Linked DNA regions of Homo sapiens: regions 1 and 2 are each linked to region 3. The links come from fine-mapping of genetic effects on gene expression. A gene starts in region 3. Each other region holds a variant in brackets. All regions are shown on one strand. Distances are from middle to middle. Region 1 overlaps ZMIZ1 (zinc finger MIZ-type containing 1). Region 2 has its middle 32 kb from the start of PPIF. Region 3 holds the start of PPIF (peptidylprolyl isomerase F).

What was found. PIP is the estimated chance that this variant, and not a neighbour inherited with it, causes the effect.
Region 1: its variant is fine-mapped to the expression of PPIF in whole blood (TOPMed, PIP above 0.99).
Region 2: its variant is fine-mapped to the expression of PPIF in blood mononuclear cells (TOPMed, PIP above 0.99).

Annotation. Positions count from the first base shown.
Region 1 is chr10:79,311,694-79,316,909 of GRCh38, reverse strand. ZMIZ1 (zinc finger MIZ-type containing 1) reads right to left here. Exons shown (of 25, transcript NM_020338.4): 25 at 391-4,268. The coding sequence ends at 4,161. Among named protein-coding and RNA genes, the nearest start is that of PPIF, 33 kb to the left of the region's middle. RefSeq lists cis regulatory regions at 1-299, 1-305, 1-331 and enhancers at 3,373-3,872, 4,630-5,130. The variant G/C (reference allele first, on the strand shown) is at 3,152.
Region 2 is chr10:79,376,957-79,382,172 of GRCh38, reverse strand. No RefSeq gene overlaps it. Among named protein-coding and RNA genes, the nearest start is that of PPIF, 32 kb to the right of the region's middle. The variant T/C (reference allele first, on the strand shown) is at 2,142.
Region 3 is chr10:79,344,751-79,349,966 of GRCh38, reverse strand. PPIF (peptidylprolyl isomerase F) reads right to left here and starts at 2,498. Exons shown (of 6, transcript NM_005729.4): 1 at 2,224-2,498; 2 at 861-891; 3 at 214-302. The coding sequence starts at 2,418. RefSeq lists an enhancer at 250-750, cis regulatory regions at 1,517-2,017, 1,700-2,200, 1,729-2,229, 2,232-2,754, 2,222-2,754 and 5 more and silencers at 2,065-2,294, 2,315-2,724.

The DNA of each region.
Region 1 (5,216 bases), 33 kb after region 3:
CTGTGTGCTCTGAACAGCACCCTCTGTGGCTTAATATGAATAGCTTCCTGCTACTTAAACCCAGCATAATCCACAAGGGACCATCAAAGATGGGACACTGTTGCACACTCTGAGTCACATGCCACAGGGGCCCCTAGCACCCTGCAGCCACCTGGCCCTATTCAGCCACCCCAACTCCCCCAACCATCCGGCCACACACTGCACTTGCCCCACCAGGGACTGGTTCCAGGGACCCCCATGGACAGGGGTTCTTCCAATTCAACACCCAAACCACCTGCCTTTCTTTTTTGTGTGTGCAGAGGGTAACAGGGCGGGGGGTGTGGTTTAAAACAAAAGCAAAAACACCCAAACCACTCCTTAACATCCACAAAATAGCTAATTCGCCAAACCTTTGTTTTTGTCAATTTATTTAGAAAAAAATTAACATGGGCAAATGAGATACCTCAGTGTTACAACAGAGTATAGAAATGTCTAGCAATAGTCAAATAATTTGATCTTTAAATACAAAATAACCACATGAACACCTAATATACAGGTTTCATCTGAATACATATTTATTAGATAAATATTAGAGGTTGTCACATCATCTAACTACATACAGCTTTGCAAGACTAGAAATCACAATTAGTTTTTTGACCAGTTTAAAGTATGAAATGATTGCATTGTACATACGATGTACAAAGACGATGATGGTTTCTGTGGGAGTTACTTCAGGCTGCACTGGTGGGTGTGTTTATGTGTGTACGTGTGAATCACCTGTGATCATGATATCAAAAATTATACAAAGTATGAATTTGGTTACAATTTTCTTCTGAAATCCCCGTTTCTTTTCATTATTTCCATAGCACCCTAAAAATACACAGGTGGCAGGACTAGTACACTGAAGCTAAATAGTACATGTAGGTAAAATAAAAACAGAACAAAAACCCCTTTCCACTCAGGGTCAGAGTATATTACATGAGCGAGAGAGACAGACGTGGAGAACTCACAAATGCTATAACCAACAGGATCTAGTTTTTCCACGTGATGGAGTTCCAAGCTTTTTTTTTTGTTTTGTTTTGTTTCGCAAAATAAAAACAATACACATTCCAAGAGAAATGAATGCATCTGTTGACACGTCTCTATTTCTCATTTACATATGTACACACGTCCCTTGAGTCGCTGCTGTTGACACGGCCCTGTGTGGACGGGTCAGGCCCGAGGCCCGTCGGGAGCAGACCTGTAGCTCTCTGGGGGATCAGGGCTTCCATTAGGGAGAAAGTATTAGCAGTTTCTTAAAAAATAAAATGGCTACACGGAACATGATACATGGATAAAGCTTCAAACCAAGAAGATGGGGGTGATTGCCTGTACTTGGCCCTTCCCGCCTGCCTGCTGGCTCCCTGTCCATCTTGCGGAGTGGCGGCAGAAACATGCCTGTGGGCCGGGTGGATGCTTGGCATGGAAAAGTGGCTTGCAGAGGCCTCGTTTTTGCTGAGGTTACTTATGGCTCCAAGTAGTCGTCCGAAAGGATCAGGGAAGGATCTCTCCAGAGTTCAGGACCATCTCTGTTTATGGGCGTTGTCTACCTGCACCTGTCACAACCTGGGGCTTGCTCCCGCCCCGGATGCCTCTGCACCTCCCTCACACCCTGGCCTGGCTCCCAGAGCACTCCGGAAGAGCTTGTCTCCAGACTGCAGGCTGTAGGCACCACGCACGGTTCAGAGCCAGCCGGAAGGGAAGCTCTGGGCCGAGCTTGCTGGTGGAGGCTTGCTGGAGAGGGGACCCAGGAAACCCGCCTCAGGTGCTGAGCCCAGAGATGGTTGCAGGAGGTGCCCGGGGCCTGGGCTGCAGGGAGCATCTCGACTCTCCGCACTGGAAAGCCGTGGATCCACCTGTGAGCAGAGTGTGGACACACCCTGATAAGAACCAGAATGAATCCCAGGCCTTTCTGGGGCAAAGTATCAACGCAAGAAGCAAGAACTCCTAAGGAAGGCATCTGTAAGTCTGTCTGGAGCTTAATTCCCAGATGGTCTGACACAGGGCGTGGCCACTTGCCAGGCCACAGACACTGGGCAAGGGTGGCCACATGCTACCTGGCGTTGGCTTGTCCCTGCCAGCTGACTGAGGGATGGCTCTAAATAGCGGGCTGCCCGGTCTTCCAACTCCCAGCACAGCCGCCCATTCTGTTCACCCCTTCAACTGTACAAATAGCCCTGGTTGCTTTTTTTGTTTTTGTTTAAAAAAAAAGAAGACTCGGTCTTTGTCATTGAGTCCAGGTATTTTAAAAACACCAGCAAAGGCTATAACCAGGTCATGAAAATGTTGAATATTATCAAAGACGATACTAAAATATTCACAAAGATATTTACAAAAGCGATTCTTAAAATAATTGATTTGCATACTGAACAACACGCTATTTGAAAAAACCTCGACAACGGGACAAAGGAAGAAAAGGGGCCGGGGCAATGGCAGCTTTCCTACAGAAAACCTTGTGCCGTCTGGGACAGTGACTGGAAGTCAACAGCTGGGGCCACCTTTCCGGTAAAACCCACAGAGGAGAGCTGGGGACCACCCACAGCGGACGGGAGAGCAGGAAAGGGCCCCAGGCAGCAGCCGGGAAGGGCGCAAAGAATTTACAGATGGGACCCCAGTGACGGGACAACCTGGCATCACCCTAGGCCATGTGGCTCACGGGGCACAGACCAGCCTGAAACAAAGTGAACACAGGACAGGCTCCCCAGGAGGCCCTGGAGAGTGGTAAGCCAGATGGAGCAAAGCGGTGGAGGGAAGGCCAGAGGCTGCTTTTGCTTGAGTGAGCAGGAGTTTGGGTGAGATTGTGATGGTGGAGGAGTGCAGGCAGGGTAGGCTGGCAGCCAAGGGCAGTGTCTGGGGCAGGCCCAGAAACACGCCCCCCTCCCCCCCATGCCTGCAGGTACATACTGGTGCACATGTCCATGGCCTGGGCTGCAGCCGGGGGCAGCTTGGAGCACAGGGACAGAGGGAGGGGCTGGACAGACACCATTGCCCTGGGCTCTGGTTTCTGCACCTCCCCGGCCTTTCCACGCACTGCCCTTGCCATCTGATTGGACAAAGAGAACTAGGACAGAGGGAAGTGGGTGTCCCACGGAAGTCTTGGAGAGGTGGCAGGAGAGGGACTAGGAGAAAAACA[G/C]AACAGACGGAGAGAAATGGTTTGCTTGCTGTCCAAGAGCAACGTTCCTTTTCTCCAGGTGACTTCATAGCTTTAAATTGTTGCTGTTTAAAAAGAGAGTGGCTTGGAGCAAAGTTAGAAGTTGCCGCTCCTGTTTGCTTCTGACAGGTTATATGCCCGCGCCCCCCAACCAAGGGCACAATCACTTTGGTTGGGTGTACACCTGCTCTCTCTGTTCCCCAAGCCTGGGCCCTGTCTGAGCTTGGAGGTGGAGCCTCAGGGACGTCCTGGCTCAGAAGATGTCCTGGCCCTCTTCCCCACCAGTCCCCAAGCAGGAATGGCAGACCCCCTCTCAAACACAGACTCTTGTCCTTTTTCTCTGCTTTCTGAGTGTGTTTATGGGGTATCTTGGCTTATAGGTCAGGGGTCAAACCGATGACCCCTGGCCCCCGAGAGACGTTGTCTTTCCCAGAGGTTTGTGCTTTTCTGTGGTGGGTGGTGGTGGGTGGGCTGGTCTCACTGCCACCAACTGCCAGTGCTCCTCCAAGGCTCGGGGCCCATGCTGGGGCCCGGGGGCCTTCTCAGGCTCCACAGTCACTGGAGGGAGGCTCTGGACCAGGAAGCAGGGAGGCAGGGTTACAGTCTAGAAGATGGAAGAACCTTGGGGACACTGGAAGGTCATCTGGAATCGGCACACGCGGAGGGACCGGGAAGCCGCATCAGCGTGTGCCCTCTTACCGGGCTGGTTCCTCTCGGGAGGGTGGTCTTCAGGCCTGCGCTGGGCATGGGCCCAAGCCAAGGGTGTGGAGGTGGGACGTGGGCTCCAGACCCACACAGCCTTCCTGGTGCACTGGTGCACCCTCCCTACCCCTCTGTTCTGAGAGGGCTGCAGCGGGGGAGGGCTCCCCGCCCCACAGCCCGTGGCTCTGGTGCGGGGCGGTCTGAGGGCACAGGCTCCCAGGTGGAAAAGTGTGTTGGGTAGGTGGGGTAGGATGCAGAGTGTGGAGGGATGGCCCCGACCGGGTGGCCCTCAGTTGTTCTCAAATAGAGACAGGAGGTCATCGTTACTATTGCTCGGCAGGTCGGGGGGGTCCAGATAAGACAGGAGCTCGTCAGGATTTGTGAGTTCGGGAAGGAGCTGGAAAAGAAGGAGTAATGAAGTTCAGATGAGGTGTGCCTGAGAGGCAGGCCCCGGGTGAGGAATGCAGGGGCGCCCTGGCCCGTCCCCCTCCACCTGCCTCTCAGGACCCTAGCCAAAAAAAGGGGTAGAGAACAGCCTTGGGCTTGGGCCTGCCAGGTATCCCCACACATACCCCGGCCACTGCACCGAGTGTGGGGCACCCCCATGCTCATTTCAAGCCTCAGGATTGGGACCCGCAGCCCACCAGCTGAGGCCTGAGCAGGGCTGACCCTTTTCAGGCATGGACTTCAGCCCTAACCTGGGAAGGCCCCATGGCAGGTCACTTGGGCCTCCCAGCTGAAATCACATGCTTCACGTGTAAGCACAAGGAGGTGGGCTGGTGGGAAGGCGGGAAGGCGAGTGGTTCCTGCACCGCCCCCAACCCCCCAACATCCCTCTTCTCAAGGGCTCGCCACTCCTTGGTGAGCCTGTGGCTGGCTGGCAGCCATCCTTCCCTGTGGCCCCGGAGGGGATGCAGACTGTCTCTACCCTCTACTGAGATATCCTTGGAGTCTGTCACATGGGGAGCCTCATGCATCTAAAAGCAGCCCCACTGGCCTGGTTTGAGGGGGAACACTGGGCAAGGACCTGAGATGGCTGCACAGTGAGTGAGTCCTAGCTAGCACAGAGCTCCTCTGATGCTGCAGGGCAGAGGCTGACAGAGCAGGGCTGGGGGTGAAGAACAGGAGGGGCCGAGGACAAGCCTCCTCCCGGAGTCTGGCACCAGCTCTGTGTAGGCATGGGCGGGGCCGGTGCTCAGTCCCATCCCGCCAGCCCCATCCAGCAGCCCAGCCCCATCATCCAGGGTGACCCCCACCATCTTCCAGACCTCAGGGTAGGAGCCCTGGCACCTCTGCTGCCCATGATGGCCTGCTGCCCCTGGCTGTGACCCAAGGCTGCCCCCTC
Region 2 (5,216 bases), 32 kb before region 3:
ATTTGCCTCCTCCCAGCCTCTCTGCCCCCAACTGTACACTCTCCAGGGCAACGGCCCTCCCCAGGTTGGCCCCAGACTGGGTGAGATTGTCGGCAGATGAGGTCACGCGTTCACTCAGCGGGGGGACTCCCGGGTGACCATATATAGGAGTGAATCTGCCTCAGAGACGGCAGCCCTGGGCCGCTCCCACTTGGCACACTCGGCCAAGATCAGGATATGGGCCCAGACAGGGAGCATCACACAGTGAGCAAACAGATCAGTCCAGGGGAGACGGGGCAGGGGCCCCTCTTCTGACCAAAGCCTGGGCTGTCATGAGGTGGGGCTCCTGCTGAGGGTCATGGGGAACCACAACGAAGCAAGACTATCAGCAGCCACCCACCTGCAAAGCCCAGCATCGGCTCTTGCTGTTCTCAACCTTGCTGCTCACCTGAGTCACCTGCGGGGCTTTAAGAACATCATGCCTTGGTCCCACCCCAGGGAGGCCAAGGAAGTGGTCCAGGGTGTCTGAGTTTGTAAAGCCCCCCAGCTCAGTCCATTGTGCATCCAAAGTTGAGCAGCACTGGACTTCAGATGGTCCCTAGTGTTCCTGTGGGACCCACGGTGATGGGGAGGAGGCAGGGGGCAGAGAGTCCTGTCAAGGGGGCGCCCGGTCCTCAGCTCCAGCCAACTGTTGCTATCTATGAATGTTGTTGCCTGGGGAGGGAGGGAGGGGCAGCAGGAGAAAAACTGGAAATCCCAGTTGTTATGTGAAATTTTCCATGTTTTAAATTTTGGCAACGAGTTAAAGAGTTAACTGGATTTTTGAATAGTGTAGAAGTCAAAGCACATCCCTATGGGCCATCCCACGGCCCCTGACTGTGGCCTCTGAGATGGAGCAGAGAAAACAAAATGCCAGTCCTTGGGGTCAGGGACCATGGATGTGAAGGGGGAGGGAAAGGCAGGAACAGAGGCCACCAAGGCCAGACCTCCTGTCTTATTTGGGGTACAGAGCAAATCCCAGAACAAAGCCCCTTCCTGCTGATTTGCATCTAGAGAATTCCCTGCGCGGTGCCTGCCCTCAGTGTGTGGAATGGCCAGAGTCACTGGCCTGAAAGCAGGTGGCTGCCAGTCGGGCCCAGCAAGGGAGTGGAGAGGGGACCCATCTCCGCCAGGGTGAGAGGAGAATGGACCCCCTCCTCCACACCATGCCCTCTGCCAGCTCAAGTCCTCCAGCAGCCTGGGTGGGGCTATTGCTCTTCTTGGGCAGATCTGAGGAAACAGAGCCGGTGTCTGTCTCAGGGTCCTCCTGTCCCCTTCAGCACTGCCACCAGGCCAGCCCTGCCACCCCAGCTGTGTGACACTGGGTGGCTTTCCCCCTCTCCAAGCCCCAGCTCTCCCCGGGGTGTTGTGTGGATAAGACAACCCACTGAACACAAGACAAAGCGCACTGCTTGCACCCAGGAGGGGCCCGGGGAGTGTGGGTCTCCTGTTCCCACTGTCTGTGGCTCAGGCAGAAGCATCCGACCAGTGATCACACCAGGGATTCCGCAGGGAGCCAGGCCTCGAACCCAGGGCCCCAGGTGCTTTTGCGCACCCAGTAAGCATTGACTGGGCACCCATGCATGTTGAGGCTGGGGCTTCAGGGCTGTTATTTGATGACATGCCCTTGTCTTTGAGTGTGTGGCAGTGTGCATGCGCCTGTGTGTTTGTTTTGTTTTGTTTTCTGTGGAAAGAACACAAACCCAAGGCAAACAGCCTGCATTTCAACATCTCCTGGAGCCGTGGAAACCAGTAACTCCCTGGACAGGAAGGATTTCCGGTTGGACTCAGTGCCCATATCCAGAGGCAGCTGGCTGCTGAGGACCCAGGAGAGAGCAGAGTCCACCAAAGAAATGGCCGGCAAGGGATCCAGAGAGGGTGGCCCTGCTCTGGGCTAAAGCTGAGGCCCCACCGGGAAAGGTCTCACCTAGCACACTCACCCAGCAGGCAGGTGGCAGAGCCAGGATTTGATTGAACTTGGAGTTCTCACCTCCCAGTGCAGCGTATCAGGGCAGAGCTGGGACAGACACAGAGTTGCAAAGGTCAGACCAGGAGTGAGGGTCCAGGGCTGGGTGGTCTCAAAGGGCAAGAGACCAGGCAGGAGGAAGGGAGGTGGGGTAGGT[T/C]GGTGCCAAGTGGTGATGGTTGCCAGGTTGTGAGGAGCCCCCTTGGCATCTGCTCCAGACACAGAGAGGGGAGACCTGGCCTGGGGAGAGACAGCGGGAGCTCAACCGCCTGAGCACCAGAGCCCATCGGGAGCCCAGGGCCCCCCCTGGCAGGACCCTGACAAGGCTCTACTTGGAATGTGTGACACAGAGCCTCATGTCCTTATCTGTAAGCTGGGGGCAATCAGGACACACTGAGTGGCAGGAGACACCTGGGCAGCTCCCGCACACAGCCCTGGGGTGGCCACCTCTCTCCCACCAGCCCCCACTGTGGTGCTGAAGCTCCCAGGCTCAGGCTACCAGCCGGCTTCTGCGCTGGACTCCGGCCATAGGCTGGAGTTCCTCCCGGTTTTCTGGCCTCATGCATCCTCCTAACAGTCCTGGCAGAAGCCAGGGCAGAGAACAACATGTCAGTATGTCGGGTGCATAAACTGAGGCCTGGGGAAGCCCTGCTGCCCCAGATTGACAAGCAGGGACCTCCACCACACCCTTCAACCTCCACTGTCTGCGCTGTTTCCGATCCTGACCAGGGCCACCGAGCGGATTCCCACCAGCCTGTCCAGTCCTTCCTTCAGCAAACAGCTGTCTGTCAGTGTGTCCTGGGACCTGGCCCAGAGCTCTGAGCTAAGCCTGGGACCCATAGTCTGCTGGGGAGTCAAGCCCCCACCTGCCCTCCTCAGAGACCCTGGTCCTCCTCCCTACAGCCTGGTAAACCCAGGGCTAGGCATCTGAATGCCACCCTTCCAGGGGCTGCCTCCTGTGCAGCCTGTGCCCGGCTCCTGCCCAGGTGTTTGGAAGTGGGGAGAAGGGGCAGGGAATACCCCAGATGAAGGGAATGAGGGCCGAGGTGGGCTTGCCATCTCTCCAAAGTCAGGTGTCCTTGCTACTCCCCCAGAGAACTGGAGGGAGCCAAGAACGGGCTGCGCTTGGGTATAAAGGCCACTCTCGACACTTTCCCTGCCGTTTGTTCTGAGGCTGGATCCCAACTGAGATGTCAGGGCCACTTGCTTCCCCCTGCCCACACACACACGCATCCTCACACATCTCACACGCGCACCTTCGCACATCTCACACACACACTCACACATCTCACACCCACACCCTCACACATCTCACACACACACATCTCACACGGGCACCCTCACACATCTCACACGCACACACACATCTCACACGCACCCACACACATTTCATGCGCACACTCACACATCCACACGTACATTCACACACATCTCACACGTGCACCCATACATCTCACACGCTCACTCACATCCCATACACATCACACATGCACCCACACACATCTCACACGTGCACTCACACATCTCATATGTGCACACCCACACAGCTCACACGTGCACCCTCACATCTCACAGTGCACTCACATCTCACATGCTCACACACCTCACACGCATCCTCGCACATCTCACACACACACCCACACACATCTCACACACGCACCCACACATCTCACACGTGCACTCACATCTCTCACACACATCTCACACACCCACACATCTCGCACATGCACTCACACATCTCACACGTGCTCCCTCACACATCTTACACATGCATTCACATCTCATACACACATCTCACACACCCACACATCTCGCACGTGCACCCACACATCTCACATGCGCACTCACACATCTCACACGTGCACCCACAAATCTCACACGTGCACTCACACATCTCACACACGCACCCACACCGCACACGTGCACCCTCACACATCTCACACACCCACATCTCACACATGCACCCTCACATCTCACACGTGAATCCTCACACATCTCACATGTGCACCCTCACATCTCACATGCGCACTCACATCTCACACGCACACTCACATATCACACGTGTACCCACAAATCTCACACACGCACCCACAAATCTCACACGTGCACTCACATCTCACACGCGCACCCACACGTCTCACACGTGCACCCTCACACATCTCACATGCGCACCCTCACACATCTCCCGTGTGCACCTTCACACATCTCACACACAGACCCTCATCTCACACGTGCACCCTCACACATCTCACATTCGCACCCTCAAATGTCACACGCGCACTCACACACATCTCACACGCGCACTCATACACAACTCACGCACCCACATACATATCTCACATGTGCACCCTCACACATCTCACACATGCACCCTCTTACATCTCACACGTGCACCCACACATCACACACGCACCCTCACATCTCACACACGCATGCACACATCTCACACGCACCCTCACACAACTCACATGCGCACTCACATCTCACATGCGCACCCACACACATCTCACACGTGTACCCTCACACATCTCACATGTGCACTCACTTCTCACACGTGCACTCATATCTCACATGCACACCCACACACCTCACACGCACACCCTCACACATCTCACACATGCATCCTCACACCTCATATGCACACCCACACACCTCACATGTGCACTCACACCTCACATGCACACCCTCACACATCTCATGTGCACACACCTCACACACGCACTCACATCTCCCACATGCACACACACATCTTGCAGTGCACTCACACACATCTCACATGCACACCCTCACACATCTCACGTGCACACACATCTCACACACGCACTCACATCTCACACCTGCACTCACACATCTCACACCCACACACATGTGCACACACATCTCACACATGCACTCACACATCTCACACGTGCACACACATCTCACACATGCACTCACAAATCTCACACACGCACTTACATCTCACACGTACACACACATCTCACACACACATCTCACACAGGCACTCACATCTCACACGTGCACTCACACATGCACACACAATCTCACACCCACACACACATCTCACACACGCACTCACATGCATCTCACACATGCACTCATACACATCTCACACTGTTGACACCCTCACATACACACCCATTTGCACACTCAAGCCTGCACATATTCATACATGCACAGCCCACAAACACACACAGCCACAGACCATCAGGAGTCCCATGGGGGCAGCGGGCCT
Region 3 (5,216 bases):
AGGGCCTGCCACTGACCTGGAGTGGCAGCGGGTTGGGGCTGGGCTTCCATGTGCAGTGAAGCCTGGATACAGGGCTAATGCAGGGAGGGCAGCCTGGCTGACAGAGCAACTGCAGCTGCTCTGCTCAGCACCTTCCTCATACCAGGCATCTTCACACACCCACAAGGCAGCTCCTGCTCTCATCCCCCCTTACAGAAGAGGAAACTACATTACCTGGCACATGAAGGAAGGGATCACCCTGTGGAAGGTGGAGCCTTTGTAGCCGAAGCCCTTCTCACCAGTGCACAGGGCTCTGAAGTTCTCTGAGGGTCGAAGAGAAACACAGGTCAACAGGGCCAGGCCCCAATTCCAGGGTCATACCCGTTCCAGCCAAAATCCCTGCTACATCCCCAGCAGTGAACAGGGGGATAAAGACTCTGGCCCACCTCTTGGGTCTGCTCTGCCCAACTCGCTATGTAACTGGACAAGTCACTCCCCTTCCCTGTCCTCAGTACCTGAGCACTGTGACAAGAGTACAGGCTCATGGCTGTGCTGGCCAGCAGGGCACGGACTCAAGGGCTGTGTGCCCATCACCCTGCCTCACTGGGCACCAGGAGTGGGGAAGTCTCCGGGAAATTTACATGTGCCTTCCACTGGCTCTGAGGCTCCCAGCTACTATGAGAGAGGAGGGCAGAGCCAACGTTGAGGCCCAGAGAGGGATGGCAGGGCTGCCCCAGAGCACCCAATGGCTGAGCCACACATGGAGCTCCCATCTGTCAGGGGTCTCTGAGCCCCGACTCTTCTCATCACGCCACCCACCTTGCCCTGCCTGGCCCCCTTCCCTCTAGACCCATCTCAGAAGGCCCCAGGCCCTGTCTTACCAGCTGTCTTTGGGACGACATCTGCCTTCAGCTGTTGGGGGAGAAGAAGGACAAAAGAGGATGGTCATTGGAGAGGCAGGTGAAGGTGGGTGTCTCTCAGCACCCACCCACCCCCACAGTGGCCAAGGAGGCTAAGGAAGAAGCACGTGGACATTCCATTCCCATTATTGCCAACCCCCATGGGAGGCAGCTCTATCATTTCTGGGAGCCGTTTCCTGAACCCAAGGCTGGAGGAGGTGGCCTTGGTTTCCTAATCTGTCAGAAGAGATGACAATGCTATCTTGGCCTACTTCTGTGGACACAGCTGGCAGTGCTCCCACAGCTGGGCCCAAAGCATCAGAAATTCAGGGACAAGAGAGTGTGTCTAAGGTAGAAGCCAGACCAGCTCCTCCATTCGGGGTTGGGAAACTGAGGCCCAGGGAGAGGCATGAGGGTGTGGGGAGGGAAGGCTGAAGCCCCATCCCAGCCAGCCTCTACCCTCGAAGCTGCAAGACCCACCCTGGAACCAAATGGAAGCAGGAAGGGTGTCCCTATTTTCCAGAAGAAACTGAGAATGAAGAAGAAATACTAAGGGCTCCCTGGGATACGGGCCAGTCAACACAAACAGACCCCTGCTGTCAATGTGTGGCCGACCTGAAGGCTCCACTAGGGCTTTCCCTCTAAAGCTACCCTGGTGACTGTTTCTTACTTTGCTTTAGAAAAGACCCAAAAACAGAGTTAGGGGAGGTGCTCAGTGTGGCCCCCAAGGACAGTGGCAGGGGTTGAGGCGCCGGGCACACTGTCTCTGAGTGTGTCCCGACTCGCAGGAGGGGCATTCTGGGGTCCACCAGGTGGCCGGGGCCTGAGGCCTACTGGGCCCGCACTACTGCTGGAAACCACCTCTCGCTCCATTTCCCAGCACCCCCAGTGTGAGCCCGACCGCAGGGGCGGGGCCGGAGCCAGGAAGCGCTCCGTGTTGTGCAAGGGCCGCCACGTGAGCACCCGCTGGGCCACGACGCTCACCCCAAGACCCCCGACACCCACCTCGGAGCTCCGGATCTAGGCTCAGCCCCAGAAGGCTCCTGGAGCCCCTCCCTCGTGCCCGGGCCGGCCCAGAGGTGCTGAGCCCTCCCTCTCTGCGATCTGACCTTGAGCTTTCTCCTCCACACGTGCCCTCCCTCCCGTCTCCCCCGCTCCAGTGCTCCGAGGGAGGCCGGAAGAAATCATTCTGACGCCCATTCTCAGAAATGGGGAAACTGAGGCCCAGAGCTCGGCATGGGGAGGCCCAAGGTCACCCAGCGCGCCCGGCACCGCGCCGCCCGGGGCCCAGGGCTCTCCCCGGGCCCGTGTCCCGCGCCCAGGCCGGCCCTGCGAGCGGTCTCACCTCCAGCACCACGCGGCCGAGCGGCTTCCCGTTGGCGTCCACGTCCAGGTACACGAGCGGGTTCCCGGAGGAGGAGGAAGAGGACGGGTCGCCGGAGCCCTTGCTGCAGGCGCGGGCCGCGGGGAGGCGCAGCGGCACGGAGCGCGGGACGGAGAGCAGGCCGAGCCAGCGGGAGCCGCAGCGCAGCGCCAGCATCGCGGGCGCGGGTCGGGCGGGACACGGGCGGGGAGAACACAGAACTCAAACTGACGTCGCGCGCGCCCAGAAGGCCGAGTCCCGCGCAGCCGCGCGCCGCAGCCTTTATTGGCTTGCCCAGGTTCCCGGCCCTGCCCCCGTCCCGCCTCCTCCAGGCCTGTCCGTGGACTACCCCTGCCGGCCGCAGCGGGCAGCGCAGCCAGCCGGTGGGGCCGCGGAGCGTGAAGTGCTTTGAAACACTCCCGCCTCCAGGCCCAGAGACCCGGAGAACAGACACCTGGCAAAAGGTTGCTGGTTCCATGTTTATTAAGGTACCAGCAGATTTTTTTAAAAAAAGAAAAACTGCTAAAACGTAATTAATTCCAAAATATGAGCATCTATACGTTGCAATTTGAATATAATAGCAAAAGTCTACCTTTGAGCCCTTTGCAGGTAAGGCTCAGGCCAAATAAGCTTCCCTGCTGCCCTAGGTCCTGCAGTCTGAGAGGGTTAGAGAAAGGTGAGATGAGAGGCGGGATTAGTGAGCTAGAGGCGCAAGAGGGAGGAGATAAGCTGAGACACCTCCCATGATGCCCCCTAGCCTGCTTGTCCCGGCCTGGGCCTGTCTCTAGTTGTTTCTGGGGACCAGACCTGCTTCTAGCAAGACTGAAAACGCAGCCTGGGCTCATCATGCTCCTTTCAGGCCCCCAGCCCTCCCCAGGACTGGGTCTGATCCCTCCTCCTAGGACCCACACTGACAGCCCCGGGGCAGACTGCCAGCTGCCCCCTCCCATCAGCATGCACCCTGGGAGGGGACTCAGTGGGGAGACCCACAGCAGGAGCATTTAAACCCCACGTGCTGAAAGTGGGCTTCCCAGCAGCCAGAGCCACCCTCACTGCAAGGTGGTGGGAGGTCTGCAATAAATGGATGCCACGCAGGGACCTGAGAGAGCATCTGGCCCAACACTTGTACTGTCCCCAGGGGAAGCTGAGGCCTGGACACAGGAAGGCACTGGCTAGGGCTAGGGAGCCCTGGAGTATTGCTACCAGCTTGCACCAGTGCTCCAGGCCTCTCTGGGCCTCAGTTTCCCATCTGGAGGGTAAGGGTGCGATCATGCTCCTCATCCTGCTTTTTTCTCGTGTCTGTTCTTAGGATAAAATGAACGAGAGAGACATGGATTTGTCAACTAAGTACTGTGCCTGTGGGCATCTGTGATGGACAGAGTCTGGACTGTCTTTCTCACAGTTTGGGATTCAGAGAGCTGCGGTCTCAGTTAGAGGCCTGAGGGGTCAGAGAAAGGGGTGGGGCTGAGCCTTGGAGGCAGGTGGGCAGGAGTAGGGACCAGCTCTGGACTGACCTGCCCCAGATCCTGAATGGGCTCATGGGAACAGGTCAGGCAGCAAAATGCCAGCCAAGCAAATTCATGAGGTCAGAGCAGTGCCCTAGCTTCATAAGAATGCTAGCTTGGCCTCTGGAAGTTTGGCTAGCTTGGCTTCTGGAAGTTCATAGCCCCCTTCTCCGATTCCTGGCCTAGGAGGGGCCTAGGCACCCAGTGAAGCCCAGGTGGGATGCATTCCAGGTCCCAGCCCAGAATGGGGCCTCACTCTGCCCTGGGGAGCAGCCCCTCCTTTCTTATGATTGTGCCCTGAGGTGAGCAGGCCTGAGTGGGGAGCCCACTTGAGCCCTCAGCACATGTCCCAGACCTTCCTCTACCAGTGCATCCTGTGGATTTGAGAGTGGAGGAATCACGCCATGTGCCTTGTCATGAAGCTTCCTTAAGGCCCCAGGCTTCCCTGCGGCCAGTTCCAGGCCCTGAGCTCACAGGACCTTCAGCCACAGCAGGTAGCTCAGCGTACCCTGTTGTTTCTCAAGCCTGCTCCTGGGGGGACTCAGTTTATGCCCCATCCTGATGAAGCATGAGCATCCCCACCCCAGGGGAGTGCTGCCTTCATTCACTTGACCACTTCAGTTCTCAGAACCCTTTCCCAGCTGTGAACTCTGCCTGAGAGACAGCTCTGTTTTGCAGATGGGGAAGCCAGGCCCCAGGGGCTGGGGAGTGAATTGCCCAAGGGCAGGCTGTTGGAACTGGGACCAGTCTGTCTGACTTCACAATCAGGGTTATTGCATGTCAAACCCTTCTCACTCTCACCACGAAGCTGGTCCTTGGGACAGGGTGGGGAGGCAAGAGAGATAAGCCTGGGCAGACAACACAGTAAGATAGAAACGGTGGAGTTGGCCAGGGGGCTATGGAGCTCAGGGACTAGGGAGATGGTTTTAATAGTGAGCATGAGCTGAAAGGCCTGTGGGGACCCAATCACAGAGGGCTCTGAAGGCCTGGCTGAGGTCTGACATTGTTGGATAGCACTGGGGAGCCATGAATAGTGCAAAGACTCCATGCTGAGGACTCTGGACTGGGAACCAGCTTCTTTCATTCATGTTACTCCTTCCACTCTCTTTGGAAAATCAAACGTCATCACTACCTCCTAAGCCAGAGAAAAGCCTACCTTCCCCAAAGGCTTAGCTATGATGTCATCCCTTCCTGTTCTGTTCTCAGTGGTATCAGGAAGAAGGATAGTCTATAGGCTAAGCCATGAGCTGAACACATGCCCAGCCCTTGAGGGCTCCGGGCCCAGGTGACATCAGGCAGGTGTTAGCACTCACCTGGCTCTGAGGCTATTTATAGACTGTGTTATCCTCAGAAACAGCAGTGTTTCTCTCCACTCAGCTCACATGGTTTTTTATCCAGGGTGCTGATGGGTTTTGTCACCTAGGGATCCTGTAACACCACCTCTAGGCCTCACAAAGCCAAAGAACAATC